6 linked regions of the Homo sapiens genome follow. The protein of the gene in region 6 purifies or fractionates together with the protein of the main gene of each other region. This does not show direct contact. Each region holds a gene or a part of one and is shown on either strand. Other genes may lie near its edges. The genes, in order: TBL1X, CCNY, WASHC3, GAP43, MCM9 and HORMAD2.

What was found.
Region 1: the proteins of HORMAD2 (region 6) and TBL1X purify together in Homo sapiens (affinity purification with mass spectrometry; one large-scale study listed by BioGRID and IntAct). This does not show direct contact.
Region 2: the proteins of HORMAD2 (region 6) and CCNY purify together in Homo sapiens (affinity purification with mass spectrometry; one large-scale study listed by BioGRID and IntAct). This does not show direct contact.
Region 3: the proteins of HORMAD2 (region 6) and WASHC3 purify together in Homo sapiens (affinity purification with mass spectrometry; one large-scale study listed by BioGRID and IntAct). This does not show direct contact.
Region 4: the proteins of HORMAD2 (region 6) and GAP43 purify together in Homo sapiens (affinity purification with mass spectrometry; one large-scale study listed by BioGRID and IntAct). This does not show direct contact.
Region 5: the proteins of HORMAD2 (region 6) and MCM9 purify together in Homo sapiens (affinity purification with mass spectrometry; one large-scale study listed by BioGRID and IntAct). This does not show direct contact.

What each region holds. Positions count from the first base shown.
Region 1 is NC_000023.11:9,466,838-9,472,063, forward strand, and holds part of TBL1X (F-box-like/WD repeat-containing protein TBL1X), read left to right. Parts: intron 1-5,226. UniProt on the Homo sapiens protein: F-box-like protein involved in the recruitment of the ubiquitin/19S proteasome complex to nuclear receptor-regulated transcription units. Plays an essential role in transcription activation mediated by nuclear receptors.
Region 2 is NC_000010.11:35,527,329-35,532,554, forward strand, and holds part of CCNY (cyclin-Y), read left to right. Parts: intron 1-2,644; coding exon 2,645-2,702; intron 2,703-2,795; coding exon 2,796-2,915; intron 2,916-5,226. UniProt on the Homo sapiens protein: Positive regulatory subunit of the cyclin-dependent kinases CDK14/PFTK1 and CDK16.
Region 3 is NC_000012.12:102,054,285-102,059,510, forward strand, and holds part of WASHC3 (WASH complex subunit 3), read right to left. Parts: intron 1-5,226. UniProt on the Homo sapiens protein: Acts as a component of the WASH core complex that functions as a nucleation-promoting factor (NPF) at the surface of endosomes, where it recruits and activates the Arp2/3 complex to induce actin polymerization, playing a key role in the fission of tubules that serve as transport intermediates during endosome sorting.
Region 4 is NC_000003.12:115,621,315-115,627,122, reverse strand, and holds the start of GAP43 (neuromodulin), read right to left. Parts: upstream 3,614-5,808; 5' UTR 3,434-3,613; coding exon 3,404-3,433; intron 1-3,403. UniProt on the Homo sapiens protein: This protein is associated with nerve growth. It is a major component of the motile 'growth cones' that form the tips of elongating axons. Plays a role in axonal and dendritic filopodia induction.
Region 5 is NC_000006.12:118,830,190-118,835,415, forward strand, and holds part of MCM9 (DNA helicase MCM9), read right to left. Parts: intron 1-5,226. UniProt on the Homo sapiens protein: Component of the MCM8-MCM9 complex, a complex involved in the repair of double-stranded DNA breaks (DBSs) and DNA interstrand cross-links (ICLs) by homologous recombination (HR).
Region 6 is NC_000022.11:30,173,906-30,178,743, reverse strand, and holds the end of HORMAD2 (HORMA domain-containing protein 2), read right to left. Parts: intron 2,682-4,838; coding exon 2,577-2,681; 3' UTR 1,669-2,576; downstream 1-1,668.

The sequences.
Region 1 (5,226 bases), on a different chromosome or scaffold from region 6:
TTTTTGTGGAAAGCCACCAAGCTGGGTAACTAATGCAAACAACAAAAGTTGTTCATCACTGGATCACCGGCCCTTAAGGCGATTCCAGCCCTTAGTAGAACACACACCTGTAGGGCAAATATGGAGATTTGTGGTGTAGTGCTGCCACCCTCGCTCCCCAACTCTCAGGCATTTTGCCCCTTTACCTCAGAGAACTTCTCTCTGTCAGTGGTTTTAAAGAGGAAACAGTTTGCAAAAATAACTTTATTGTAGACATACTTAGAAGTGAATGTTTCAATTTCTGGAGTTTTCCCATCAATTATATCAGTACCACTGGTTCTGTACAACATCATCTTAGTTAGAAGATTTTTTTTCACCTTTTAAGGTGACGAACAGAGGCGGGAAAATGGTCCCTGCAGAGGGAGGCCATCTCCAGCAGGTCCCGAGGGTCAGGAATTCAGATTATCCGATCTACTCCTGCTGGATAGGAGCACACCTCCGCTAGAACCTGGGTCCGGCCCCCTCCCAGTTTTCTGCAGGGCGTCCAGATTCCGGTGCTCTGCCCCGCAGCAGTGCCCTGTGGGCCTCCTGGCTTAGCTGATCAGCACAGCTTCTCTGCCCAGCGAGGCAGGACCATCCTCCCACTGCTTTCCTGATGCCTTGGATTTGCTTTTTTTCCTCCCTTAGGAAAAGCAAAAAAACCTAATATGCTACATCCGAGAAGTTGTTAATCTTTCACTACCACATGCATTGAAAAATCAGTTCCACCCAGGAAGCAACACTAAAGGCATATTGTAAACACTTTTTTTTTTTTAGTTGGAAAGATAAACTTTTTTCCCCCATAACTATTTTTAGTTAGCCGGAGACTGGACTCGAGTTTTTACCTCCGGTCTTGCCCCCTCCACTCCCGCCCTCACTTTCTGTGGGGCTCGACCACATGGACCATGCTGGCCAGACTGGCAAACATGAAACCCACCAGAACCAAAAGAAAAGCTGGATATGGGAAGGGGCCGAAGAAGTCCACATGTTTCTAAAGGGCAAAGAGCCTAGGCTGAGGAGAGACGTTTCAGATCTCCAGGGGAGAAAGACAGCCGTTAAGGAGTCCGCCGGGCTGCTGCCTGCCTGGCCAGCGGGAGCCTGACTTCAGATGCCTGCGCCTCCCAAGCTGGCCCCCTCCCACACAGCCATCGCCATCCAGTATTTAGGGAGAATCCACCGCATGCCTGAAGGTTGCAGAAGTGAATTGGAAACCGTTACAAATGGAATTGGAACAAATTTAAAGTTAAGATGGAAGAGAGAATATGTTGAGTTTTCAGAGGAAGTCGGGTACTGCTTCCTTTTCTTGTCTAGGTTTGTTCTTGTCCGATGGGATCAGAGAGATTTGAGATGGGGCATGATAGGCGGCGGGTTCAGGAGAAAGGGAAGCTTTAGAAATGAAGGTAGAAAAGATGCTTGCTTATTGGAACAGTATTTTCAACGTTGAGCTCTGGAATGTTGCAGCCAACTAATGGTTCTCATTTGGGACAGTTTTGTCCCCCACTTTTGAAGGGAGCATTTGCCAATGTCTGGAGACATTTCCCTTCCTGCAACTGTTAAATTAGCAAACAGGTTGAGCCAGCTGGGTGTGGACCTGCATTTTCCTCGTGGAGGCCCTCTTCCAAGTGTCAGTAGGAAAAGGGCTCCCAGAGTGTGGTCCTGCTGCGGGACCTTGGCCCCCACGTCCAAGTGAGCCCCAGAGGTGCCCCAAGCCCTGCCTGGTCATGGGGAATCTGGGCTCCCGCTGAACTTGGGCGCTGGGGACAGCTATGAGGGAAACCTGGTTTGCAGCTAGCTTGCCGTGCACTGACTGGAGCTTTGGGCAAATCAGTGAACTTCTCTAACATTAATTTTCTCATTGAGAGAGGAGGTGGGTAGGAGTATATATATATATATGTAATTATATATATAGGGGTCGGGTAGAGGGAGAGAGAGATTTCCCAGGCTCCTTGTATTAAAGGAGATAGAGTTATTATATTTCTCATTTAGTTTTTATTTATTTGTTTATTTTGAGACAGTGCAATTATTATAGCTAGCTGCAGCCTCAACCTTCTGGGCTTAAGCAATTCTCCTGCCTCAGCCTCCTAAGTAGCTGGGAGTACCAAATGCGCACTACCATACCTGGCAATTTTTTTATTTTTATTTTTAGTAGACACAGGCTCTCACTGTGTTGCCCAGGCTGCTCTCAAACTCCTGGGCTCCAGTGATCCTTCCTCCTTGACCTCCCCAAGTGTTGAGATTACAGGTGTGAGCCACTTTACTCAGTCGACCGACATAGAATTATTATAATGCTTGGAGCCTAACATGCCTTTTTTGTTTGTTTGTTTGTTTTTTCTGAGACGAAGTCTCTCTCACAGCCCAGGCTGGAGTGCAGTGGTGCGATCTCGGCTCACTCTGCCTCCCGGGTTCAAGCGATTCTCCTGCCTCGGCCTCCTGAGTAGCTGGGATTACAGGCATGCTCCACCACACCCGGCTGATTTTTGTATTTTTAGTAGAGGTGGGGTTTCACCATGTTGGCCAGGCTGGGCTCGAACTTCTGACCTCAGGCGACCCTCCCGCCTCGGCCTCCCAAAGTGCTGGGCTTATGGGCATGAGCCATCGCGCCCGGCTAGCCTAACATGCTTATAGTTTCCTGTTTTCTGAAGTTGGGAATTGGGTCTGGAAAGGTATCACCATCAGTCACGATGGTGTCTAGTAGTTTGCTTTGTTTTTTTCCTTATCTTTTCCCTCTTACATTTTAGGGCTGTATCTATATAATTTTATTATTTAAATTACCATATGGTAAGTTTGTCTCTTTGGGTGCATTATGAGTCTTGACACATGCATAGATTGGTGTGACCACCATCATCATCAGGAGAGAGAACAATCTCCTCAGCCCAGAGATGTTCATGGCTCTGTCTCCCACAGTTCCTCCACAGTCACCCCCCCCAGCCCCGAATCTGGGGCACCCAGCCATCTGCTCTGCTCTGGAAGTCTTGGGGATCCCATCTGAATGTAACACATGGTGGAATGCCTTAGGTGAATCCATCCGCTCTTCCAGTACCACCTTTGCCTCCTCTCTCTGATGACACATGAACTTCATGCCTTTGTGTGCTTTGGCCAACCGCTTTTCTTAGAACAGCACATTTTGCACTGTAGATGTTATCACAAGCAAGGAAAAAACAGCTTTGCTCCTTAATGTAAGAAACCACAGTGGAAAAACATCAGGTGTGTTGTTGAGGCTGCTAAAGCTTTGCTCCTTTTTAAAATTTTTTAAAAATTTTTCTGGATACGTAGGTGTATATATTTATGGGGTGCATTAGATATTTTGATATAGTCGTGCAGTGTATAATCACATCATGGAGAATGGGGGTATCCATTCCCTCAAGCACTTATTCTTTGTGTTACAAACAATCCAATTATACTCTTTTAGTTATTTGCTCTTTTTTCTTTTATTTTGAGACGGAGTCTCACTATGTCGCCCAGGGTAGAGTGCGGTGGCGCGATCTCCGCCCGCAAGTTCAAGCGATTCTCCTCCTCAGCCTCCGGAGAAGCTGGGACTAGAGGCATGTGCCACCACACCTGGCTAATTTTTTTGTATTTTTAGTAGAGATGGGTTTCACCATGTTGGTCAAGCTGGTCTCAAACTCCTGACCTCAGGTGATCCACCTGCTTAGCCTCCCAAAGTGCTGGGATTACAGGCGTAAGCCAGCACGCTCGGCCTATTTATTTCCTCTTTGTTCTATGCCAGTTAGTTCTTGATGCCTCATTGTTTCAGATGGGACATTTTCTAATGTCGTGTTTTTGTTTTTGTTTTTTTGAGACAGAATTTCATTGGTGTTTCCCAGGTTGGAGTGCAGTGGCATGATCTCTCCTCACTGCAACCTCCGCTTCCCGGGATCAAGCAATTCTCCTGCCTCAGCCTCCCGAGTAGCTGGGATTACAGGCATGCACCACCATGCCCGGCTAATTTTGTATTTTTAGTAGAGATGGCATTTCACCATGTTGGTCAGGCTGGTCTCGAACTCCTGACTTCAGATGATCCACTCGCCTCGGCCTCCCAAACTACTGGAATTACAGGTGTGAGCAACCATGCCCGACCTCTGATGTCCTTTTAGAGGATGTTACCCTCACCTTTATTGCACAGTCCTACCAAAAGGTACTTCATATGTGAAATGTATCAGAAGGTTATAGTCATGGCTTTAGTTTAAAAACAGGATACATGTTCATTAAGGACCTTTGCCGTTTTCCCAATGGGTTAATCACGTAAATATAAAATAGGCTAAAAATATCAAGTTGTTTTTGCCTTTGTTGTAGAAATAAAAAAATGAATTCCTACATCTGTGTTTCTATGGAGCTGCTAACCTGTGTTTTACTCTGGGCCATATGTCGCTTTCTGTGATCTCATGACGTGGCATGTTTTCTAATATAATCCTTGTCCTGGCATTTTGGTGACTTTTGTCCTGCCTGAGGTGGTCTACCTGGTTGTGTGAAGTCACAGAACCTGTGCATGTCCTACCGTGTAGAGTTAAAGGGCTGGATGAGTGGCCTCAAGCCTTTTCCTCCCTCCCAGGTGTGAAGATTTGGTTTGGAAGATGGACCCTGCTTCAAGGTCTGGGAGGCCATGTTTTTTTCAGACTGGTTAAGGATGACGGTTTTATGTTAACTAAACATTGGGATCAAGTGACAGTTGTTTATGTCCGGTGCCTAGAGTATCAGTTTTCCCATGATTAAAATAAGCGATATTTTGGTAAACATTGATAAGTTAGTTGCGCATTTTAGTTCAGAAACCCACAGCGAGTCAGAAGGCGCTTTGTGCTGCTGGGCGCCTCTGAGTGATTCCGGGGAGTGCGGCAGTTCTCCAGCCCCAGGAGACCCTGTGAAAGAAGCACAAACAATGCTCACGGCAAAACTCACAGTGTTTATTCTTGACCTGGGTGTCTGCCTTGAATTCTTGTCATTTTTCCTATCGTGGTGGATGTAGCCGGAATGCTTTAAAGAAAACATGAGAGTTTTTTCTGCCTGTTTCCCTTGAGCCTGGAACCGATTATGACCCCAGATAGCCTGCACAGGGCTCTTTCCTTTCTGGAACACCTGCCCAGGCTAGAATATGGGAGTAGGGAGGAGGTGAGGCTCTCTCCTGCCCGGTAACCTTCCCGGCCAGCTCTCCAAGACGCTGAAACCTTCCTTCGGGTCTGTTGAAACTGCATCCCCAGCACCATCATGTCGGAG
Region 2 (5,226 bases), on a different chromosome or scaffold from region 6:
AAGCTCAGTTGTGCTTTCAAGACAATTTTGCATTAGAATCTCTAAGATATTTCTCAGTACTTACTTAGACTATGATGGATCCTGAAGTGAATGTAGCCAGAGCTGATAATAATGAGTTGGCTTTGTGAAGCACCTACTCTGACTGCTCTGGTCAGTTCTTTACATGCTTTAATAACAACTCCTTAAGGTGATACTGGTATCTTCATTTTACAGATAAAGAAATTGAGGCACAGAGAGATTAATTTGACTAAGATGATACAACTAGTAAATTGGGGAATTGGGAAATGAATTCAATCTACCACTCAGACCATTAATCTATTGCTCTCCTAGATTAATGATGATAAATTGCACCAAAAGTAAGTGAGTGGAAGTAGAGAAAGTCCAGCTGAAAAATTGAGCATTTGTAAACAAGCAAGATTAATGTACAGATTGCCACCTGCATGTCTCTAGGTATGAGGAGGGATGCCCGTCTGCATGCCTTCTCTTCGCTCTCATACTAGGCTGGCCTTTGGTGCTGGTGATAGACCTGTTAGCTTGATAAAGGTGGTGTGGTGCTGTTCAGTTGGGACACACAGCTTTTAGAGGAAGTAAGGAAACAGTCTACTTCTCAGAGGATTCTCCAGAATCCCCTTTCCTGAGTCGTCTTAGCTCGAGCTCTTAATTCTCATTTATATTTTTAGACTCTGTTCTCATTTTAAAAATTACTTCAGGCGAATGTTTCTCTAGGGTGCTGGATGCTTTCAGGGGCTCTCATTCTCCAGGAAAATTGAATGGGGCTCAACTGCTGAGGAATGGGGTCCTGGGCCAGGTTCTGTCTCTCCTGTAGCATCTTGAATGCCTCATAGAGATTCAAGATTTGGTTTATTTGAAAACTCAGTAAATAAGGTGAGGGAATCCGCTGATTCTTTGTAGCCCAGGTTGGTATCAGAGTGTAACCACGTGCACCCAGAAGCTGCTTTTTGCTCACAGACTACCTGCTGGGTTGAACCTTTCTTTCGCTTGGGTTGATCTGTGTCTGTGCTGCCTGTGTTCATGCAGGCAAATGTAAATGAGCACAGGTGTGAATGCCCAGAGCTTTAAAAATAATTGCTGTGGCTGAGCGCAGTGGCTTACGCCTGTAATCCTAGCACTTTGGGAGGCCGAGGCAGGCGGATCACGAGGTCTGGAGATTGAGACCATCCTGGCCAACATGCTGAAACTCCGTCTCTACTAAAAATACAAAAATCAGCTGGGCCTGGTGGCGCGTGCTTATAATCCCAGCTACAAGGGATATTGAGGCAGCCTCTACAAGGAGGCTGAGGCAGGAGAATCGCTTGAACCCGGGAGGTGGAGGTTGCAGTGAGCCGAGATTGCACCAGTGCACTCCAGCCTGGTGACAGAGCAAGACTCCGTCTCAAAAAATAATAATAATAATTGCTGTTGTGCAAATGTAGGAATGAAAATTGAGCTGTTTTGTTAAGCTCTTTCTCTTTTATTTTTACACAGATGGTAAATTTCTAAAGCAGAAATTGTAATGTTTGTCATGATAAGTGTGTGTTAGGGACAGGTCTGTAGCCTTCTGAAGTTCTGAAGCCTGACACTGAAGCACAGACTATGGAAATTACATGCAGCTAGCCAAAAGCTGTCATTTCCAAGTTTGGTTGTTTAAAGAAAATTTTTTAGGCAAAACTTAAATTTCATATAACAGATGAAAGTAGAGCTGTCACTCGTGAGGTACGGAGGGTCCCCGCAGAGCCCAGCGGCCCACGGTACTGTGTTCACAGTGAAAGCTACCTCTTTAAGTGGTTCTGTGCACGTACCAGCCTGGTAAGAGCTAACTGTTCACATATAGGTTATTGACTAAAGACTTTTTATCTGTCACCTGTTGTTTTTCAGTATAAAATTGTGAAACTTAAATGAAGTAGTGACGTTGCGTGTTGTGAATAATCAGACTGATCTCTAGGATACATTGATATTCATTCTTACCCTGGCGCTTCTTTCCTATCACCCACAGTATGTTGATGGCTTAAGCAGATCCAACAACCTTTGCTTGGAAATAAGATGTCAAATTTAAGTCATTTGCCTAGATTCGATTCATTTGAAAACTCAAAAAATTAAAATTAAATTTTTACTTAATTTAGCTAAGTGTGGTTTATAACCTTTATTTCCTTGGGCTATTTTAATCATAAGTGATTAAGTATTGCACCCAAGAAAAATCATTATTCATGAATAACCATTTAGCACTGACTTGTGTTTCTTGAAATAGTTGAATTGGCTGGGTGCAGTGGCTCACACCTGTAATCCCAGAACTTTGGGAGGACAAAGCAGGTGGATCTCCTGAGGTCAGGAGTTCGAGACCAGCCTGGCTAACATGGTGAAACCTTGTCTCTACTAAAAATACAAAAAAAAAAAATTAGCCGGGTGTGGTGTTGTGTGCCTGTAATCCCAGCTAATTGGAAGGCTGAAGCAGGAGAATCACTTGAACCCAGGAGGTGGAGGTTGCAGTGAGCTGAGATGGCGCCACTGCACTCCAGCCTGGGCAACAGAGTGAGACTCCGTATCCCAAAAAAAAAAAAAAAGTCATTGAATTAAAATGTATTTTTGTTTTATTTGAATGACATTCTTGCAGAAAGTAAGTTTCATTTTCTATTATTTTCCCTACCAGGGACCCAGATGGAAGGATGCTCTTAGATATTTTTGATGAAAATCTTCACCCTCTTTCGGTAATCTCCTCCGTGTGTTTCATGAGATGATTTAATTATTTCTCTTTTGCTCCAATCGGGAGATCAGTCATCTGAAAATATTTTCTTCCCCAGAAATCCGAAGTGCCACCAGATTATGACAAACACAACCCAGAGCAGAAGCAGATTTACCGGTTCGTTCGGACACTGTTCAGTGCTGCTCAGCTGACGGCTGAATGTGCCATCGTCACCCTGGTGAGTGCCCTCAGGATGGCCACACCCATCCCCAGCCGAGGTGGTCCAGGGCCCGTTCCTGTTACTCAGCGGAGTGAGGTTGGAGCAGGGAATCCTCACCAGGTTACCCTGTGGACACCGTGGCATAAGCTTCAGTGTTGTCGTTCTCCTGGGAGAATAGAGGATAGATATCCCGGAAGAGATTGTGAAGATTGTTCTGTAGCCCCCACCTAAAGTCATTTGTGAAATCACGTTCAAATCCAGGAAATGCTGAAATTAAAAATGCAGGTAAGTAAAACAGTAGGGCTAAGAGAGTGGTTATATGGCCAAGGTACTCCCTGTATACGTCTAGGTTTCCTGGTGTTGATTCCCTACAAAGATTGTAATAGTATTAGTAAGATATGATGAATACATTCATCTTATATGAACACTTGTCTAGGAAGGAGTGTGTATATTCCTAGCTTCTGTTTTGTGACTTTTGAGTAAATGTGTCTGCAGGATATTCAGAGACAGTATGGAGGTAACGTATATTTTAAGACTCAAGAAAAAATAAAAATTTGTTTTTACAGCTGGGCTCCATGGCTCACGTCAGTAATTTCAGCACTTTGGGAGGTCAAGGTGGGAGGATCACTTGAGCCCAGGAGTTTGAGACCAGTCTGGACAACATAGTGAAACCCCGACTCTACAAAATTTAAAAGTCAGCTGGCCATGGTGGCACGTACCTGTGGTCCCAGCTACTTGGAAGGCTGAGGTGAAAGGATCACTTAAGCCCAGGAGGTCAGGCTGCAGTGAGCTATGATCATGCCACTGCACTCCAGCCCGAGGGGCAGAGCGAGACCCTGTCTCAAAAGAAAAAGTATTCTTACTTGGATTCTTAAAATGTTATGCACTATTTAGGTCAAATCTCACTTGGGAAATAGATTTAACAATGGAACCCTTTTTGTCACTGACCTTTTACATTGTGTATAACTTAGATGAGAAATTAGCTTTGCCTGTGCATGAGCTATCCTGGAGATCAGAATACCATTTCCTGTAGTTTCTGAGAAGAGACAATTGTCTAGTAGAAGCTTTACAGGCGACCGAAGGACTCTTTGTGTCTCCGCCACATGAAGAGCTGTGTGCTCCGAGGCTAACTGAACAGAAACCCTGTTGGCTTGTTGCTCATTCATTCATCTGTTCATCTGTTTGTTCATTCCTTCTCATTGAACTCACAGCCTGAAGGATAATAGAACAGACAATCAAGTAATCATTAGATGATTAGGAATGATTGCAGGTTCCTATGTCATAATTGAGTAATGTATGTACTGCCCAGCTTTGTTCCTCAAAGGGATTTTAAGTTCTAACCAAAACACGCAACAGGGCAACAGGGTTGAGATTTTTATGTAGGGAAATTCAGTGAAGGGAAAAGAAGATTAAGAAAAGCAGATGAAACCATAGATGAAATTAGTACTGGAATACATGCCATGAGGAAGGATTTATTTTGAAGTTGCTGTAGATGGAAAGTGGCGGGGATTTTTTCTACCTTTAATTCCTAAGAAAAATATGGCCTGGCTGTGAAAGATAGTGCCTTCCTGGTCGGGATTATTATTTAGCTTGAAGGATGTTCAGGGCCAGCATTTAAACCCCACAGCTCACCCAGTGTCTGCCTTGAGAGAACATCTAACAGGCATCCCTTGCTGCCCTCTGCATCACTCACCAAAGGTGACAGGGCTGATGAGTTCATTTCTTTGGAGTAGTGTAGGACTGGCACTTTTCTTGTGAATAATTGTAACTATTGAAATCTTCATTTGTCCTATGAAATAGACTGGTGTTGACCAGGATACCAGTTTGTATGGGGGTCTTGTTGGTTGCAGCTGGAGAGGAGCAGCCTTGGAGGCCTTCGTGGTAGGTGCAGCCCTGCAGCCCATCCTCTGGTCTCTGCTGTCTGCTGAGGCTCATCAGCGCAGCTGCATGCTTGTGGGTAGAGGGCACAGAGACGTGTGCCTTGAGCAAGACTCTTGTAGGATTGTTCTTCCCTCCTCGTGTTCCCTAGAGTTAGAAACAGTCATTCAGGACAAGTCTGGCCTGGAGTTGACAGAGATGCATTCATTAAGCCCTTATTTTCACTGGGCATGTGTTTGGCATCTTGGCATGCTGCTCAGCAGGCAATGGAGGAGGAAGAGCAGTTAGCCCTGGCCGTGCTTCCCACACGGAGTAGGACTGCAGCCTGCTGTGGACAGAGAGCCTACAGGCCCTTCAAACACCCAAACCTACTTCACCCAAAGCAAATATTTCACAGCTTAATCAACTTCCTTTTAAAAGAGTAACAATAACTTAGATCACTAAGTGTATT
Region 3 (5,226 bases), on a different chromosome or scaffold from region 6:
AGATTGACTGAATAGATACAAAAATAAGACCCAACTACCTGCTGTGTACAAGAGACTCACTTCACCTTTAAAAAATGGACACACATAGATTGAAGTGAAAGAATGGAAAAGAGCTCAGCACAGTGGCTCACATTTGTAATCCCAGCACTTTGGGATGCCAAGGCGGGAGGATCCCCTGAACTCAGGAGTTTGAGACTAGCCTGGGCAACATGGTGAGACGCCGTCTCTACAAACACCATGGACATATCATCCAGGCAGAAAATCAATAATGAAACACTGGCCCTAACAGACATATGTAGAAAATTCAATAAAACAGCAACAGAATACACATTCTTCTCAAGGGCACACAAAACATTCTCCAGGTTATATGATATGCCACAAAACAAATTTTAATACATTTAAGGAGACTGAAATCGTATCAAGTATCTTTTCTGACCATATTGGTTTGAAACCAGAAATCAATAATAGAAGGAATCTTGAAAAAAATCATAAATAACTGGAAATTAAATAACATGCTCCTAAACAACCAATAGGTCAAGTAAATTAAAAACGAAATTAAAAGTATTTTGAGACAAATGAAAATGGACATACAACACATCAATACTTATGGGAGGTGGCAAAAGCAGTTTTAAGAGGAAAGGAAGCTTCGGCAGTAAAGACCTATAACAAAAAAGATGAAAGATCCAAAGTGTAACATCCTAGTGTTACAACTGAAGGAATAGAAGAACAAATAAAACCCAAAGTTAGTAGAAGGAAAAAAATAATAATGATCGGAACAGAAAAAAATGAAAGAGACTAGAAAAACAATAGAAAAGATCAATGAAACTAAGAGCTGGATTTTTGAAAAGAAAAACAAAATCCACAAACTTTTAGCTAGATTAAGAAAAGGAGAAGATTCAAATAATATCAGAAACGAAAGAGATGTTACAACTGATACCACAGAAATACAAAGAATTGGCTTTTTCAGCCACAGAGCTCAATGCAGCTCAGTGACGTTATAAATGCTAATGAACTTAAGGTCTGATGTGTGTTTGAAAGAATCAGCGAAGCTTTTCTTTTTTCTTTTGTTTTGTTTTTTTGAGATGGAGTCTTGCTCTGTCACCCAGGCTGGAGTGCAATGGCGCAATCTTGGCTCACTGCAACCTCCACCTCCCAGGTTCAAGTGATTCTCCTGCCTCAGCCTCCCAAGTAGGTGGGAATACAGGTGTGCACCACCACGCCCAGTTAATTTTTGTATTTTTAGTAGAGACAGCATTCCACCATGTTGGCCAGGCTGGTCTCGAACTCTTAGCCTCAGGTGATCTGCCCACCTGGGCCCAAAGTGCTGGGATTACAGGTGTGGGCCACCGTGCCCCACCCATCAAAGCTTTTCAAGTAGATAAGAAGTATCTGAATATGGGACCACTGATATATTCAGAACAGAAGTTTTTGCTTTCTTTGTTTCTTTCATGGTGGTAGCTGGGGTGAATTTTTAGATGGTCCCAATTTTCTACAGGAATGTTTAGATGAGAATTTTTTGTTTCTGTCCTGTGGTTGAGTTGGTGCCACAGAGAATTTCCATAAAATTCAATTCCATTATTTAAAATAGTTTTTTTTAACTAGTTTTTCTATCAACCAGCCCCAGTCTGAAACTTGACACAGTGTTAACACAAAAGAGCAAGTACTTAATCTTCGTTCACATACTCTACCTACAAAGACATGACCTACAGTAGTTCTTCAAGCAGGTCAGTTTTAGGAGACGTTAATTCTATCTAACTAGACTAGCTATTTCACAACTATGTAAGACAACTTTATAAACTTTGCTTTAACTTACAAAGGTCATTTAATAATCCCATTGTTTTGACGATTCTAAAGATTGTAAGTTTATTTTTACAGTCTACTCTTAAATATTACTGTTGAGGCATATATATGGCAATGGTGGACTTAATTCTGCCTAAGATATCTGAGCATCTGTAGTAAAATATGAAGCTACCTTCATTTGGTTGATATGCTAAAGACATTTTTAAAAGTATCTCATTTTTTAAAAACTTGGTTTGTGTGTTTTGTATGCTCAGGAATTTTTCCACAGTACTGGAGACCATTGCAGTGATTAAATTTGGCCCTTTTGACAGAAAACAGAACAATGCATTCCTAGGGATAAAAAAGGGGTGACTGCAAAGGAGCATGAGGGAATTTTTGGAGTGATTCTATATCTTGTTCTACAACTATTCTACATCTTGATTATGGTATGATTATGCATTTGTCCAATCTCATACTTAATGGTAAATTTTACTGCATATAAGTTCATACTCCAATAAACATGACTTTACAATTAAAACAAAAGAAATATGAAGGCTCATAAGAGATTGCTATGACCAATTATATGCCAACAGATTGGATAACCTAGAATGGATAAGTTCCTAGACACATACAACCTATCAAGACTAAATCATAAAGAAATAGGTAATCTGAACAGACCAATAATAAGTAGAGAGATCAAATCAGTAGTTAAGTCTCCCACTAAACAAAACCCCCAGGACTTGATGCCTTCACTACTGAATTCTACCAAACATTTAAAGAAGAACTAATACAAATCCTTCTCAAACTCTTCCAAAATACTGAAGAGGAGGGGAAACTTTCGAACTCAATTTAGGAGGCCAGCATTATCCTGATTCCAAAGCCAGACAAATCCACTACAAGAAAAGAAAATCAAAGGTCAATATCCCCAGTGAACATAGAAGCAAAAATCCTCTACAAAATACTGGCAAGCTGAATACAACAGCGCATTAAAAAGGTCATTCACCAGGATCAAGTCAGATTTATCCCTGGGATACAAGGATGGTTCAACATATGCAAATCAGTAAAGGTGATACATCACATTAACAGAATGAAAGACAAAAACCGTATGATCATCTCAATAGATGGAACAAAGGCATTTGACAAAATTCAACATCCTTTGATGATAAAAACTCTCAACAAATTAGGTATAGAAAGAATCTAGCTCAACACAATGAAGGCCATTTATGACAAGCCCACAGCTAGCATCATACGCAATGGTGAAAACTGAAAGTTTTTCCTCTAAGATGAGGGACAAGACAAGGATATTCACTCTTACCCCTTCTATTCAACATAGTACTAGAAGTCCTAGCTATAGTAATTAGACAAGAGGGAAAAATAAAAGGCATTGAAATTGGAAAAAAGGAAATGAAATTGTTTCTGTTCGCAGATGGCATGCTCTTATATATTGAAAATCTTATAAAAAATTCCACCAAAAAATTGTTAGAACTAACAAACTACTTTGGTAAAGCTGCAGGATATAAAATCAACATACAAAAATCAGTAGCATTTCTATACACTAAAAGTAAACTATCTGAAAAAAAAGAAAAAAAATCTCATTTACAATAGCTACAAAAAAAATACATAGGGGTAAATTTAACCAGTGAGGTGAAAGATCTGTACACTGAAAACTATAACACATTGATGAAAAAAATTGAAGAAGACACAAATAAATGGAAAGATAACGTGTGTTCATGGATTGGAAACATGAATGTTGTTACAAGGTTGACACCACTCAAAGCAATCTACAGACTCAATGCAATCCCTATCAATTTTCCAATAATATTTTCACAGTAATAGAAAAAAAAATCCTAAAATTCATACTGAACCACAAAAGACCCTGAACAGGCAATGCAATATTAAGCCAAAAAAACAAAGCCAGAGAGATCACACTCTCTGATTTGAAAATCTACCACAAAGCTACAGTAATCAAAACAGCCATAGACCAAGGAAACAGAATAAAGAGCCCAGAAATAAATCCATGCATTTAAAGTCAATTGATTTTTGAGAAAGATGTTAAGAACACAGAAAAGACAGTTACAGAAACATACTTTTCACAGATGTTAAGAATAACAGTCTCAATAAATCATTTTGGGACAACTGGATATCCACATGCAGAATGAAATTAGACCCTCATCCTTTACCATATAAAAAAATTTAACACGAAAAGGATTCAAGATTTAAATGTAAGACCTGAAACTGTAAAACTACTAGAAGAAAACATAAGGGGAAAGTTGCACGACATTGGTCTGGGCAATGACTTTTTTTGGATATAAACCCCAAAGCACTGGTAACAAAACCAAAAATAAATAAATGGGATTACATCACACTAAGAAGTTTGTAGAATCTGGATTTTAAATTATTTTTTAAAAATTATTTTAAAAGACTACGAAGCTTTTGCACAGCCAACGAAACCATCAATAGAGTGAAGAGAACCTATGGAATGGGAGACTATATTTGGAAACCATATATGTGATGAAGGGAACCTCTGTACACTGTTGGTGGGAATGTAAATTAGTACAGCTATTATAGAAAATAGTACAGAGGTTCCACAAAAAATTAAAAATAGAACTACTATATGATCCAGCAATCCCACTTCTGGGTATATATCCAAAGGATGTAAAATTAGTACATTCAAGAGACATCTGTACTTGAAAGTTCACTGCAACATTATTCACAATAGCCAAGATACGGAATCAAAAGTGTCCATCAATGGATGAATGGATTAAAAAAAGTGGTATATATACACAATGGAATACTATTTAGCCTTAAAAAAGAATGAAATCCTGTCATTTGTGACAACATAAATGAACTGGAAGACATTGTGTTAAATGAAATAAGCCAGTCAAACAGAGACAGATACTGAATGATCTCACTTATATATGGAGGATAAAAAAGTACAACTCATAGAAATATTGAGTAGAATGGTGGTTAGCAGGGGCTTGGGGTTAAGAGGATTGGGGAGATGCGGTTAAAGGATACAAAATTTCAGTTAGGCAGGAGGAATAAGTTCAAGAGATCTCCTACATGTCATGGTGACTGCTGTTAATAACAATATATTGTATTGAAAATTGCTAAGAGAGGCGATTTTAAGTGTGCTCACCACAAAAAAAAGTAAGTACGTGAGGCATTGCTTATGTTAAATAGCTTGGTTTGGCCATTCCACAATGTATTCATATATCAAAACATCATGTTGTACATCATAAAAATACAATTTTTACCTGTCAATTTAAATAAAGAAATAAGATTTTTGAAAAAGGACAAAAGGCAATAGACTACCTTTAAACTTCATGAGGTTTTGATGAACAAACTTTTCTCTAGAGTTCAAAGAAGTACTAGAATACAGATACAGCCAGAACAGCTGCAGAGAAGTTGAGACAGGAACAGGAGGAGGTTAAAGAGTGACTCATG
Region 4 (5,808 bases), on a different chromosome or scaffold from region 6:
GAAAGAAAATGCCCTTCAAATATTTTTTCTGTTTAAATTTGGAAACCTGTGGTGAAAATCACTATTAAAAAAAAAAAAAAGAACGAGAAGCTTCAATTATATTAAGTAAAATGGCTCAGCTTAATTAATTCACTAAGTCCCTGAGTGACACTGGGTGTGGCTCAGAGAGATTTGGGAGGAATCCAATTTATCACTAGGAAGAATCGCCTGCACCAAGCAGCAAGGCAGCATCCTTCCACACCTTCCCAACACTGCAAGGAAAGGCAGAGAGGTCGGAATTTTAAACCACAGATCACACTCTCAGAGATAAGATTTATTTGTTGCATGAGGAAAAAAGCAGATATTGGCATGGATGGGGGGCTGGGGAGTAGAGGGACTACTTGCTTGCATGAAATTCTTTACACTTCAATTACAAACTAAAGTCATTATTTTTCAACAAAAGAAACACCTCATAGTTTTCTTGCTTTGTAGACATAAATCACACCTTGCCAAGTTTTTAATCATCTGCAATACACATGGCAATTAAGCTATTTAAAGTAAGCCCCAAGATATTTGAAAATCATAAGGCAATACAATATTAGGGATTATTTTATTTTATTCCTCCTTTGCCCACTCCTTTACCATATTCTCATCTCTACCCCACTCTCATTCTCTTCTTCCTGCTATAATAATCTATAGTGATAACTAATGGCTAATAGAGATCATTTATGCTTTCTTCTCACCCACTGGCAATGTATTCCAACTTAGAAATCCAAGGTTGCTTCTTTATGCCGCTCAAGTGGAAGAGGAAGGAAGTGCAAGCCCTTCAGCCCCCCTCCCACGTTTCTGCTGGATTTTATGGGTGTGGCAGAGCTTAGACCTTTGCAGGTTTTTGCCCTTGTTTTATTCCCTGTTAAGTACTACGATGATGAATAGATGCCAGCAGAAGGATGGGCACCACTGGATTTTGTCATAAATGATACAGAATTTCATCCACAAGCAGGCAACCTGCGTGAGACTTAAGTACTCATGCTACATAAATGCCAGTCAGTGTAGTGTGAGCCCACGCCCTGAATACACCATTTCCTTTAGTCTGATTGAATGGTATCCTAAATACTGGCTAATGTGAATGATACACAACAGTGGTTTATAAGAGACATGACCATTTCACACAGAAGTACACATTTATAAAATGCATGAGCAAAGTAGGACAATTTCTATACCTTTAATTTTCTCTTGAATATAAATGATGCTAAAACACAGAGAGGCATGTGGAAACCACTTACACATGCAACTGTAGCATATGAAGTATGTGGATGCTGTATACATTTACATGCGAATTTCTACAACTCTAAACACAATTTCAGCTTCATCACTTTGCACATCAGAGTGAATGCTTGGGGCTGTTGGTGAGATAGAGCCCCAGGGAAGGCAGCTGTCTTCATTTTGGGAAGGGAATTCCTTTAGCCCTAATTCCTTTTCTAAAAATCATACATGATTTCCTTTATTAAAGGAGATGTATGTATACTTGCATATGTACACATAGGGTGGGAACAAATTATGAACCTGAATATTTTTCTTTCCAAAATTAAAGCTTTTTAAGTGGATGGCTTTGGCTTACTTAGTGCTCCACCTTCCTAAATGTTATTTCCCCAGCTCACCAGTGAAATAACCTCAGGACTTTTCTTTGACAGTGTTCTTAACCCAGACACCTGTATTTATTACATTTATATATTAAAATGAAGGAGGACACAGAGAGAAAATGCCCTGGTTTGATAAAATGAGCCAATGGAAGCATCAATCTCTGTAACCATAGGGCAGTTTCAGGAGATGCTGCAAATACCGCCCCCAACTCAATCCCCCACTATCCGACTTTTTCCCCCAAATAGCCCCACACAATCCAGGATGTCTGCTTATTTATTTATTTATTTATTTATGCCAAATCTCTACTCCCACTGCTCTGACATTCTGCTTCAGTCTCCCATCCTCTTCCTGCTCCTTCTCCTTCATCCTCACTCCCCACCCTTCCTTCCAGGGCGCTGGCTAAATGTGCTAAGCTGGCAGGCTGTTTCTTCTCCACTCTCTTCCACCCCCTTCGGATTCAGGGAGTGTATTACAAATTGCCCAATTTCCAATACCTGCACTGGAAATTATACCCAAATTCCATCTCTTGCACCCCACCCCTAAGGCAATCAGTCTGCGAAGGGCTTCTTTGACCAAGATTGCCCCCACCACACCCCCACCCCCACCACAGTCAAGCATACGCACACACTCACCCGTATCCCACACCCATTTTTCTCTTTAACCTTTGCCAAAATCACTCAAATGCATTCCAACAAATGTTTGAAAGCTTCTTTTGGAGACTGCCATGGCATGGTCGGTTGCTGCGGAATACCACACTCGTCATTCCTTCCCACTCTCACCCCAATCAAGTTTCTAAAATGTCTTTCAAGAAATAAGCGAGCAATTGGAAATGGCTGTAAAACCTGGGCAGTGGGGGAGGGAAGGAGGGGCTCTGATTCTTGCTAATCTTGGATGTGTCCCTCTTCCTGATGAAAATGAGTCACCATACTTATTATCCAGGATGTTAGCCTGTCTCTGGTCACTGACAATCCCAGGAAAGAAGCAAGGGAAGGGGATAAGAGAAAAGACCTGGTTTCCAACAGGTAATACCCGGCTGTCTTTCCCATCCCATCGGAGCTCCTAGGGGCGTGGTCCACCCTCTCCTCCGACCAGCTGGTGCACAATCGGCTGCTGATCTTAGGAAGGGGATTTTCTCCTTCTGCATGGCCAATTTCTCCCCCAGCCCCAGTTGTCTTAGCTTCTCTTAAAAAAAAAAAAAATCTATCAAATCACAGTTTCATTCATTCATTGAAAAATAAATACTAAATAAATAAGACCTGCACGTTTTTCCATAAATACCTGCGCCCCTTCGAAGCTCATGCATGCACGAAATAAGGCATCTTCCGCAGCACATGTGAGAAAATTGTATGACAGAGAGGCAATACTCAGTTCTGAATATTATTTCCTCAACCCTGCTTTTTTGCAAATAATATAAAGAAATGCCTCCCCATCTTGTAGGTAGAGCCCACATCATCTCCCCCACACCCCTTTCTACGTCCACACCCTCAAGACCAGAGACCTCAAATGCTGAGCATTCACTAATAAGAAAAAAAAAAATTATTTCTAGCCAAACAGGCATGTTTTTTCTACCCTCACCCTAATTAGTAGCAGCATTCCAAAACCAGAGCATGAAAGACAGAAAAGAATAAAAGCTGGGATGCAACCATCAGTTACCATATGCTAAGGAAGCGCGAGCACCACGGCCAGAGCAGAAGCAGTAAAAAAATTGTTTGCCTTTACGGGGAAATACTGTACTCGGGTTATTTCACAACAGCAAGAAGTAAAAAATCTTTAGCTCTACCTGTTTGGTTCTTCTCATACAGCACAGCATGGTTGTCTCGTCCCTTGCCTTCTTCCTGCCTTCTCTCCTTTCCTTCTCTCTCTTTCTTATTCCCCCCCTCTCCACCTCTTTTCTGCTCGCTTGCTCACTCGCTCTCTCGCGCTAGCGCGCTCTCTCTCCCTCCCTCCCTCTCTCTCCCTCACACACACCAGGGCAGTTAGCAGCAACTGTAAGGTCCACAGCTATTGCTCATCGCACATGCTCGCTCCCTCTCTCTAGCGCTCTCTCTCTCTCTCCCTCTCTCTCTGGTGCTCTCTCTCCGCTGTCCTCTCTTCCCTCTCTTCTCCTTTTTTCTCCTTCCCCCCAATATCTATCTATCTGTCTTTTTCTTCCCTCTCTCTCCGTCTCTTTCTCGGAATTGTTCTCTAGCCTTCAGTGACTAATCACTTCCCCCAGCCCCTACCCCCATTCTAGACAGTCGCCCCCTCCCAGTCCCCTGCCAGCCTCATGAATATTTAAACACCTCCAATCTGGACCCAATTACCCACCGACTTTTCCACTGCATTGAGAGGGTGATGGGGTGGGGGCAGAGAAGGATATTCCAGTCAATCCAGGAGATATGATAGAGCATGTTTTAGGGAAGAGGGGCTTGAGGAATCCTTGTATTTCTTTAAGAACTCTTTTCCTCTTTTCCTAGTATTATAAAAGCAAAGAACAGCTATTTCTAAAGAGGAATTGTAGTCAGTCCTATACAATATAAGTCATATCTGCCATTACATTTTATGCATAGTTAATAATTGTGGAGGTTAATTTCCCTCAAAAAATGAAATAACATGTAAATATCATACACTGTTTATATATTCTTCTCAGTATACATATAACCTGAAATAAATACAAAGCTTAGATATGCACAAGCATATTTTATATATGTTCCAATATCCTGGAAAAAAATCCACATAAATATATTGCATTTTAAACATTCTAAGCACTTGAGCTCAGAAATAATAAACAATGTTTAAGAATTGGCATCCATATCTAAAATCACATGGTAGTTTTTTGTTTTTTCCTTAATGCACATATACCTGTTTGTAAATTGTGGTTTCTTCTAATTTTACTGAAAAAGCTGAGCACATTCAAACAGGTCTGTGTAATATTGACGGTGATCAAAATGATATTTTACAATTTGGGCATGAGAGATTAAAGTGAATTCATCTGAGATGAGAAGAAACGATAAGTCATGAAGCCTACTTCTTGAATTCCTTCTATGGCCTTTCATAATTTTGGGGGAGGAACATGTGACTCTTAAAGTGTGTATAGCACAATTTTTAGTTATTTATTGTTGAATGAGTTTGAGTGTGTTACTGAAGCTCTTTGCACCTAATTTTCTCATCTTTAAAATGGAGATAATAATGCCAATCTTGACAACATGTTTTGAGGACTAAATGATATAACGCATGCAAAGCACAACAGTCTCTCTGAGTGTATAATAGCTTTACTCCAGAGACTGTACTTTTCTGAAATTCGGGTGACATTTGCAAGTGAATATCTCAAAGAAGTTTTCAAACTATTTCTTGTTGTTCATTAGTGATGACAAGTACCCCTAATTAAACAGCTCATATTCTTCATAGTCCCTCCTAGACCTCCTAGACATAAACCTAGCTAATAAGTGGCAACTAGGCAGCTTATTGTTAGGCATATTTCAGGATCACTGAGCTCAATAAGTGCTTAGTACATTTTAACATAATTTAAGGTATATCTATTTCAAAATGGACTATCTCAGACAGGTACCTGGGAACGATGGTGATGATGATACCCAGGAGGTGATATTTAAAATTAGCCTTAATTATTCCTCAGGAGTCTTCCTGAGAGTGGCCTGCTTCAGATCCGCTGATTTGGTCTTTCATTCTTCTCAGTTTGCTTCCTAGTTTTCATATTTATGATTAAAAAACAGAATTAGTTTCTGAGTTTAATAATTTTTTAATGTTACAAGGAGCCCAGCCGCTTTCAGAACAGCCTTCCGTGATTTTAAGTGATAAAAGAGGACAAAGAGTGGGTGAGAAATGGCTCCTACCAGAAACATTCCGGTTGCAGATTAGGAACACCCTACCTAGCCTGCTAGTGGCTAAAGAGCAATGAAGGGAGGAGGCAGAGAATGTGGGGATTGGGGATGATGGAGAAGAAATTGCACCTTTTGGTGTTTAAACAGGATAACTCCATTGATAAGACCATTTCATTAACTATGTGGCCAAACTTAAAGAGTGGGACTAATTCCTTTCCCTTTCGATGTACTCACCTCAGCCATCCCATTTATATTTTTCCCCCTTTATATATGGGAAGGAACCTTGGAAACAAAGTGGCATAATGAAGTTAAACAAGCTAGGGCTTAAAACTGGGCACAAGCATTGATGAACTTTGTGACTAAATAT
Region 5 (5,226 bases), on a different chromosome or scaffold from region 6:
TTTGAATCTGTAAATTTGTATGCTGTGCACTTGATGCCCATTTTTAGTTATAGTGGGATGTCTGCCTCCCAAGTCACAGCCCTATGACATCAGCAACATGTATTACATTTGTTAATCCCTGATCTATTTCTAGCTAGCAGCTACTTCATTCCCTGAGGCTGAAAATGTTTGAGAATCTTTATTTGTGGCAAGTGGCACAAGAAGACACTGATTAAATAAATAAGAGAAAGATAAACAAGGCATTTTTACCAAAAACTAAATTCCCTTTTAAAAAATTAGTGACAAGGAAAAATTCTGGACAGTCCACATCTTATAATTTATGTGTCAAAATGGCTTTTGTAAAGACAGTTGTTTAGAACTTGGAATATAATTTGCCATAGAACAATGTAATAAGCGGTTCCTAAGTAACCCACAAAAGCACATTTAACCCACACTGAAGACGGACTATTTGTATTTCTTATTTAAAAATGTCCACAACACTGGCAATGAAACAAAATACAATTGCATATGACATAATTTTTATAAAATTATTTTTAATGCTAGGTCAAATGAATTGTTCATTCATCCTCTCTCTGACCAACCAATATTTATAGACCATTTCCTTTGTGCAAAAAGCTGTACTGAGAATCCAAAAAGGTACATATCTGATCTCTGCTGCCAATTAGTTTACAACAGAACTGCTGGGGAAAGAAGAGGTGGAGCAGAGTGCCTGCCAGATCGTAAGTGTGCAAGGAGTGCTGGTGTCAGTATCAGCATTAGTATCAGCAGGGAGAAACTTCGGTGGGGACACCTGGAGATCTATAGGGGATATAATTGGAGAGTTTTCCAATGTATGAGAAGAAAAATGAACACAGAAAGAAGGTGGTAAATTATGCCTAAGGTAACTGGGGGAATTAATTTTTCCATTAGAAAAGCTTAAGCTTAAGAATCATGCTGGTGGATCGCCAGAGCTCAGGAGTTTGAAACCAGCCTAGTCAACATGGTGAAACCCCATCCCTACTAAAAATACAAAAAATAGCCGGCACGGTGGTACACACCTGTGGTTCCAGCTGCTTGGGAGGCTGAGTTGGGAGAATCACTTGAGCCTGGGCGGTGGAGGCTGCAGTGAGCCGAGCTTGTGCCATTGCACTCACAAAGCAAGAGACCATCTCAAAAAAAAAAAAAAAAAAAAAGTTGGGGGTGGGGAGAACTAACAAAAATTTGTATGCAAAGAAAAAAGGCTGTCTGAGGTGAAGTCAGCAGAAATAGGAGCAAGGAAAATACGGGAGTGGGCAGAGGAAGAGGAGATTATGAGAGATAAGTCAGGCAGATCCCTGTAGCAAAGAGGGAGGATGAAGACAGTGCCAGGACAGACAGGGTGGTCTCTGGGCATTTGAAAGTGGGGAAGACCATATGTAAACCTGGTGGGTACAGACCTGTGATACAAACATTTTTTAAAAAAACTAAATGGGGCTTTAGAAAACAAACACAAATACATACATACAATCTAATCCTAAGTATACAGTGCGTAGTAGTGGCTCACTAAATACTAAATGAATGAATTCATAGACTGTAAGGTAACTCATTTTTCTATCCCATATGAACTCTACCTTCAACAATATTAATAAAAATAACTACATTTTTAATATCAAGCAAGCACTGCATTAGGTTTACAAAGATCATCCCTAATCACAGCAACCTGAAGGGTAGGTGCTATTATCACAAACTTAGAAATAAGGAAACTAGAAGTTCAGGAATATTAACTTCCCCAAGGTTACACTGAGAGGAGCAGAGCTGAGATTCAAACCTAGATCTGCTGGGCTCCAAAATCAATGCGCTTTTACTTCCAGACTGCCGATTCTGCCTGGGATTTTCGGCATCAACTTATTTGCCTTACTTATTTTTTTTAAAAGACATGGTCTCACTCTGTTCCCCAGGCTGTAGTGCAGTGGAGCAATTACAGCTCACTACAACCTCAAACTCCTGGGCTCAAGTGATCCTTCTGTCTCTGCCTATCAAGTAGCTAGCATTACAGGTGTACATCACCATGCCCAGCTGATTTTCAGAAAATTTTTTGTGGAGATGGAATCTTGCTATGTTGCCCAGGCTGGTCTTGAACTCCTGGCCCCAAGAATCCTCCCGCCTTGGCCTCCCAAAGGGCTGGGATTACAAGTGTGAGCCACCTTGCCCAGCCTATTTTTGTCCTACTAAATGTGGTCTTCCTTGAGAGATTGTGATTTATTGTTATAATCCTCACACTGCCTGGTACATAGTAAATGCTTAATAAATGTACATAATTTAAACGACAAATAAAAATAAATCTTTACTTAGTTCAGTATTTCTGAACTTCAGCATTATTTTACATTTACAGGCTTTGTCATAAAAGGATGCTGATACATATTTCTTTTGTATTAAACTTCAAGAAGTAAAGACATTCCAATTTCTGAAAAAACTACTTTTACATTTATTTAATGCACACATTTAAACGTCCTACAAACACAGTAGTAACTGTTCTACTAATAACTTGTGTAACCTAACATTGTAAAGTTATTTTTACCAGTAAAGACCCTTAAGAAAGTGCCCTTGTTTTTGTGAAGGTCTCCCATTACTCCCTTTACGGGATGATCCTCATCTTTACTTATGGCTTTGATCACCACCTATATGCTGGTACTTCCAAATTTATCTCCAGCCTGTGGCACCAGGTGCTATATGTTCACCTAACCTTGTTTTCTTTCCATCCTGGGAATAGAGCAAGATTGTATTTCCTATTCCCATTACAGTGAAGTAGGGCTATGATACCAAGTCTGGACAATGAAGTAAAGATAGAAGAACATAAACCACTTTTAGGTCTGGCCCCTAAAAGCCTTCCTGTGCAATCTTTTTCTCTCTCTTTACTAGTGGAGTACAGAAGAGGATAAAGCCCTGGAGTCAGAGAGCCACATGAGAGAAGGAGCTTGGGCCCGGAATCATTGTCGGAGCAGAGCACACCACCCTCAATCCACATCAGACTGACACGAACAAGAAAAACTTCCTTCGGCAAAGCATTGCAGGCACGTGGTGAGCACAGGAAAAAACTGACCAATCTTCAAAGAGAAATGAAAAGCAATGAAGACATCTCAGAAATTTGAGGTTTTGAAGTGTTAGGGAAAAAAAATTGCTTCTAGACCCCAGACAGTAAGAAGCAAAATTGAAAAAAGCTTGAACAAAGGCCCAGTAAATTTTCTCAGTTGTATAAAGTCACTTAGATTGAGCATGAAATCTGCTTTAGATGGTGGTAAGGTAGCCACTGTTAAGTAATGAAGCCCACACCCATGTTCTCAGCAGCACTACACACACAACAGCTGAGAGGCGGAGAAAATCCAGGCGTACATAGATAAAGGAATGGATAAGGAAAACGCGGTCTATACACACAATGGAAAATTGTTCAGTCTTAAAAAGAAAGAAAATGCAAACACATACTACAACATGGAAGAACCTTAACTATATCATGCTAAGTGAAATAAGCCAGTTACGAAAGATCAATACTGTATGATTCCACTTACCTGTGAAATACCTAGAGTAGTCAAATCCATAGAAACGGAAAGTAGAATGGTGGTTGCTAGGGGCTGGGAGGAGGAGGAAATGGGAGTTTTTTTAAACAGGTATAGAGTTTCAGTTTGCAAGACGGAAAGAGTCCTGGTGATTGCTTGTACAACGTGACTTATACTTTTTAAAAATTATTATTATACCTTAAGTTCTGGGATATATGTGCAGAATGTGCAGGTTTGTTACATAGGTATACATGTGAAACGGTGGTGTGCTGCACCCATCAACCCATCATCTACATTAGGTATTTCTCCTAATGTTATCCCTCCCCTAGCCCCCCACCCAGTGTGTGATGTTCCCCTCCCCGTGTCCATGTTTTCTCATTGTTCAACTCCCACTTATAAGTGAGAACATGCAGTGTTTGGTTTTCTGTTCCTGTGTTAGTTTGCTGAGAATGACGGTTTCCAGCTTCACTCATGTCCCTGCAAAGGACACGAATTCATCCTTTATGGCTGCATAGTATTCCGTGGTATATATGTGCCACATTTTCTTTATCCAGTCTATCATTGATGGGCATTTGGGTTACTTCCAAGTCTTTGCTATTGTGAACACTGCTGCAATAAACATACGTGTGTATGTGTCTTTATAGTAGAATGATTCATAATCCTTTGGGTGTATACCCAGTAATGGGATTACTGGGTCAAATGGTATGTCGGTTATAGATCCTTGAGGAAATCGCCACACTGTCTTCCACAATGGTTGAACTAATTTACACACCCACCAACAGTGTAAAACAGTTCCTATTTCTCCACATCCTCTCCAGCATCTGTTTCCTGACTGTTTAATGATCACCATTCTAAATGGTGTGACATAGTACCTAATTGTGGTTTTGATTTGCACTTCTCTAATGACTACTGATGATGAGCTTTTTTTCACGTTTGTTGGCCATATAAATGTCTTCATTCCAAAAGTGCCTGTTCATATCCTTCACCCACTTTTTGATGTGGTTTTTTTTTTTCTTATAAATTTGTTTAAGTTCTTTGTAGATTCTGGATATTAGACCTTTGGCAGATGGACAGATTGCAAAAATTTTCTCACATTCTGTAGGTTGCCTGTTCACTCTGATGATAGTTTCTTTTGCTGTGCAGAAGCTCTTTAGTTTAATCAAATCCCATTTGTCAATTCTGGCTTTTGTTGCCATTGCTTTTGGTGTTTTAGTCATGAAGTCTTTGCCCATCCCTATGTCCTGAATGCTATCACCTAGGTTTTCTTCTAGGGTTTTTATGGTTTTAGGTCTTACGTTTAAGCCTTTAATCCATCTTAATTTTTGTATAAGGTGTAAGGAAGGGGTCCAGTATCAGTTTTCTGCATATGGCTAGCCAGTTTTCCCAACACCATTTATTACATGAGGAATAATTTCCCCATTGCTTGTTTTTGTCAGGTTTGTCAAAGATCAGATGGTTGTAGATGTGTGGGATTATTTCTGAGGTCTCTGTTCTGTTCCATTGGTCTATATATCTGTTTTTGGTACCAGTATCATGCTGTTTTGGTTACTGTAGCCTTGTAGTCTAGTTTGAAGTCAGGTAGTGTGATGCCTCCAGCTTTGTTCTTTTTGCTTAGGATTGTCTTGTCTATATGGGCTCTTTTTTGGTTCCATATGAAATTTAAAATAGTTTTTTCTAATTCTGTGAAGAAAGTCAATGGTAGCTTGATGGGGATAGA
Region 6 (4,838 bases):
GAACCAAGCACAGTCAGAGTGAGGGAATGGCTGGTCTAGAACAGCTCAGGCATCCCAGCATGGGGCCTGTTTTCATTCTTTTCACTAAAGTGTCAGCTCCTTGATGCACTTGTGTTTATTCATCCCATTACAATTAAGAACCAAAATGAATAGAGAAAAGATTTCTTTCCTTCTAATAAATCATTCAGTAGATAGAACTGAATACACTCCAATATTGATAGCTGGTTGCATATTTGAGCTCTGCTGTGTAAAATCAGATAGTTCACATTTTCACAGTTCTCAGATTCCCTTGGTAACAGATCTCCTTCCGTGTGTGCCCAGCCAAGGGCACAGGCCCAGAAACTTCTCTGTTGTCTCACATACACACTGCCTCAGAAACACACAGTCCACCTACTGGCAGTGATAAAGACTGTTCAGATGGGGAAAGAGGTGTTAATAGAGATAATAAAATCACTATAGAAATTTTCTAGATAGATTCAGATTTGAGACTTTGACTTAAAGGATCTGTCAGCCTTAGGCTAAGTTTATGACTATCACAAATACAGATTATGAGCTCAATTCCCCTTGAAGCAAAATAGTTCCTTTTGAAATCCAGATTAACTAATTACTCAGTAGTGCTAATTTGCTTTGAGAGTCTTTATAGAGTTTTTGTGAAGCTCCTCTGTGTTCAAATACCTGCAGTGAAGACAAGCTCACTAACTCACAAGGTAGCCCATCTCAAAATTTTGACAACTGACAATTGTAGAGTTAAAAAGCTCCTCCTGGGCTGGGTGTGGTGGCTCATGCCTGTAATCCTAGCACTTTGGGAGGCTGAGGTGGCTGGATTACTTGAAGTCAGGAGTTCGAGACCAGCCTGGGCAACATGGCGAACCCCCATCTCTACAAAAGACACAAAAATTAGCCAGGCATGGTGGCACATGCTTGTAGTCCCAGCCAGTCCGGAGGTTGAGGTGGGAGGATCACTTGAGCCTGGGAGGTCAATGTTGCAGTGAGCTGAGATTATGTTGAAAAAAAAAAAAAAAAAAAAAGCTCCTCCTTATAAATTGATCTCCTATAGCCTTTACTGATTTGCTCTTAGACCTTCTCTCTGGAGAGACACAAACCTAATTCCTCTACTAGACAGCTAATCTCTTTATGTGATTCTCTTCAAAGAAATTATAGTGACTCAGTCTACAATTCTATCAAGGATATAAGTCCAATACCTTTCCCCTCCTTCTTTCAGTGGCAGAGCAGGCTTTCATGAGTCCACTTAATATGCTAAAAGAAGGGGAAATGCTCCTCCTTGCCTGCAGGCCCCAGTGCTATAGCCCAATTTAAGACCCCAGTTTGGTAGGCTGCCCTAGATAGTCAAGAATGGCTGAGAGTCTGGCAAGGGGCAGTGCTGAACAGGCAGGCTCCCTGGGATTTTCCTACAGAGATTCACTTTAGTCTGGGTCAGAGGTCATTGGTTCTCCATTTTGTGTGTGTGTGTGTTAGAATCTGGAGAGTTTTCCACAGTGCCTGAACCTGAGAGTTTGATTTAGTAGAAATGAGGCAGGCCTAGTAATCCATATTTTAACAAGCACTCCAATTATTGATGTTCTCACTACACTTTACATTTGGAGAGATACTGATGTTAGCAAAGAAACTTTTCCTTTCTGTGTGAAAAAAGATGAGCAAAAAAAAAAGTCTTGTATTTTCATTTTATTTAACCATAAGTCACACACTTAATATTTAACTTATTGGTCCTATCCATTTAAATTAAATTACTAAACCTCATTTTATAAGTTACTAAATCTCATGTTATATAAATAATAGAAATAACACTTTAAGTCATCTATTGTTCATCTCATACTAATCATCAATTAAGTCTATCCAAATTCTTCCAGAATAAGGAGGGAACTAATAGCATCATTTGCAGGTTACAGACTGATAAACTGAAGTGCTTCTTGGGAAATATTTAATATAGGTCTTAAGAAGAGAGCCAGACTCCTGAATTGCAGCATGTTCCGTGTTTCGGATTGGATAACAGAACAGGGCCTGGGGCCAGAGTTGAGGCAGGGCACATTTTGGTCCCACAATTAGCTGATCAACCTCGTGACTGAGGTTAACACATAAATCACACCTGGATAAGCACCTCCACACATCCTATGCAACTCTGTGGGAATTTTTAATACAGCTAGAGAGGGATTCCAGTATACAGGTTACAACAAGTCAAAACATTTCACAGTAGTCTAAATAGCTGAAGAGTTTAATTATGCAAAAAAATCCTTCTTTCCTTTGAGAACAACAGCTTCTTTCCAAAATAGCTGCTGTGGTTCTTTTACAAATATAATATAAAAGGTGCCTCATCTCTAACCCAGCTTTGAAGTAATGCTATCCAGAGGCAGCCCTATTGACCCGCTTTCCTTATGGCAAAGTGGACTCGCGTCCTACCTGGCCAGTAATTTAGCACTTAGCAACTGACAAAAAAAATTGAGCAAAAAATTTAGAAAAAGGTTTTGGTAACAGGAATGTACTTTCCTGCTAAGACAGTTTATGCATGTTTTTACAAAATAAACTTATTTTAAAATAAATGTAGAAGGAATATTTAGCTTTCATTTTCTGTTAGGGATGAAGACCTTCACTGGTTCACTGACCTTCCTCTTCTTCCTGGAGCACTCAGAACTTTGCTGACTGCACACAAAATTCATTCTTTGAATCTGTGAGAATCACCAGAGAGAGGCACAATTCAGCAGAGATTTTGACATCTGCACAAGACATATATAAGACAGGTAGACCAAGCATTAATCCCTCAAGCTGCATAACGGATCCAAACCTGCTTTCCTGTGGGCTGGTTTGGCCCTGCACAGAGGCCCTGCTGCCAGTATCAGAGTCTGGTATTCCAAGTTTCAGGAGCTGAGGTCCCTTGGAGGCAGCCAGTTTCTGAGACAGTTTCTTGGCTCTCTCTAGTGAATTCAACACATCCAACTCTTGAGAGAAGGTTGTTAAGTTGTGGGGCCAACAAGAAGCAATTAAGGTTTAGGAGAGATCTGGGGCACTGACTGCTTTAGAGGCAAATGTAATTTAAGTCCCAATTTCAGGTAGCAGAGACATACTGCCTTGTGTTTTCTATCGTGTGTTCAGAATAATGAATTAAGAAGAACCATAACCTTTCTACTGAGGAGTATGTTATTGATGAAAGGGAAGTTGGTTAGTGAATCATTATAGATATATATTTTGCCATTGAGTTTGGCTTTGGTGAAGATTTTAGAACTTATTTTTGCTTAACTGGGTGAACAATTAGATATATTATAATCTGCCAAACAATCCCTAATGCCTGGAATTCCAAAAAACAGATAGAGGACATTTATATATTTTCCAGCCACTAGATGGGAGGAAAGGTTTTTCCATGTCCTATGTTTTTTCTTTGGAAGGAAAATGGAATAAGATATATATATATATATATTATATTATATATATTATTATATATATTCTATATTATATTATATATATTATTATATATATTCTATATTATATTATATATAATATATTCTATAATATAATATATAATATATATATTTAAAGCAAGACTTGTGAGAATATATAGTAGAGTTTCTAAAATTATCCTTTTTGTCCTTCGTAGGAGAGGCATGTTATTATTATTGATATGTTACTATAACAAAATAGTGGAAGTGCAAATAAAACATTTAAGTGTCATTTAGGAACAAAGATTGTGTATCAAAATGGCTAACTTAAGTACTAATTCATCCTTCAGTTTTAGAAAGCAGTTGAATTTCTGATCTCAGGAACCACAAATTCCCTTTGGCTTATACTAAGACAGTAGCTATACAAAACTCTGAGAAAAGATATAGAGCAGCCCCTCAAATAACTCGTTTACTTACATGTAAAAATTTGAAATGGGCTGCTCTAAAGGAAAGGAAATAGCAACATAAAAAGTCAAAGCACAAAAACCAAGTTGTTATCTAGGAGATGAATTTGTTATGGTTTGACTGTAGGAAAAAAGTATCTGGTAAAAGTTAGCTTGTTGCTTGGCCATGCTTTCCATTCAAACCAAACTATCCTCACTTCTATCAAATCTGGGTACACATGAAAGAAGAGAAGATGAGTGTACGAATTCTCAACTGACCAGTTGACCTGATGGTTTAATAGTTTTGTTCTCTTTTTTCTTTCATTGTTCAAATAAATCCAAAGTTTAATTACAAGTTGCAGAACTGTAATTTTATTGCAGTAAGTCAAAATATCTTCAATATCTCAAGGTAATAGTGAGGCCTGGGAACTCTCAATGGTTCATAGAAAATTTGTGGGCTGAAAAACAAGTATGTTATCAGCCAGGGGACACTTCTTAACATAGACAAATAACATATACACACTATATAAACCAACAAATTTATCCACACAAAGGAACATTTGAGAAACATTTTTCAGGTGTATTCCAACTGGCTGAGTTTGTACACTTGACGCCAAAGCCAACAAGCCAAGCAAAAGGCCACTCATCAGGCAGGCTAGAAAGATTATCTGGTTGATCTGAACATCAGATGATCATCAAATGACTTCTAATACTTTTCATATTATATTTTAAACATACAGCTTTTTAAAGTGTTTCTTTTTAATTATTAAGTGTTTCTTGATGCAGACTAACAAGACGCTACTATGATCTGTTTACCAATAGAGCCTCAGGAGTAGAGTATCCACATATGTATCTGAAAAAAGCCCTGAAGATATGCTTTCTGTATATGATGTTGCCCTACTTTCCATCTTTGGTTTAGTAACACATTCTCCATTTGGGGAGCCAAAAAGTAGGCTTTGCCTTAAGCACAAATAGGATAGCCAGCTGATTTGGTAGCAGTATTTGGGAA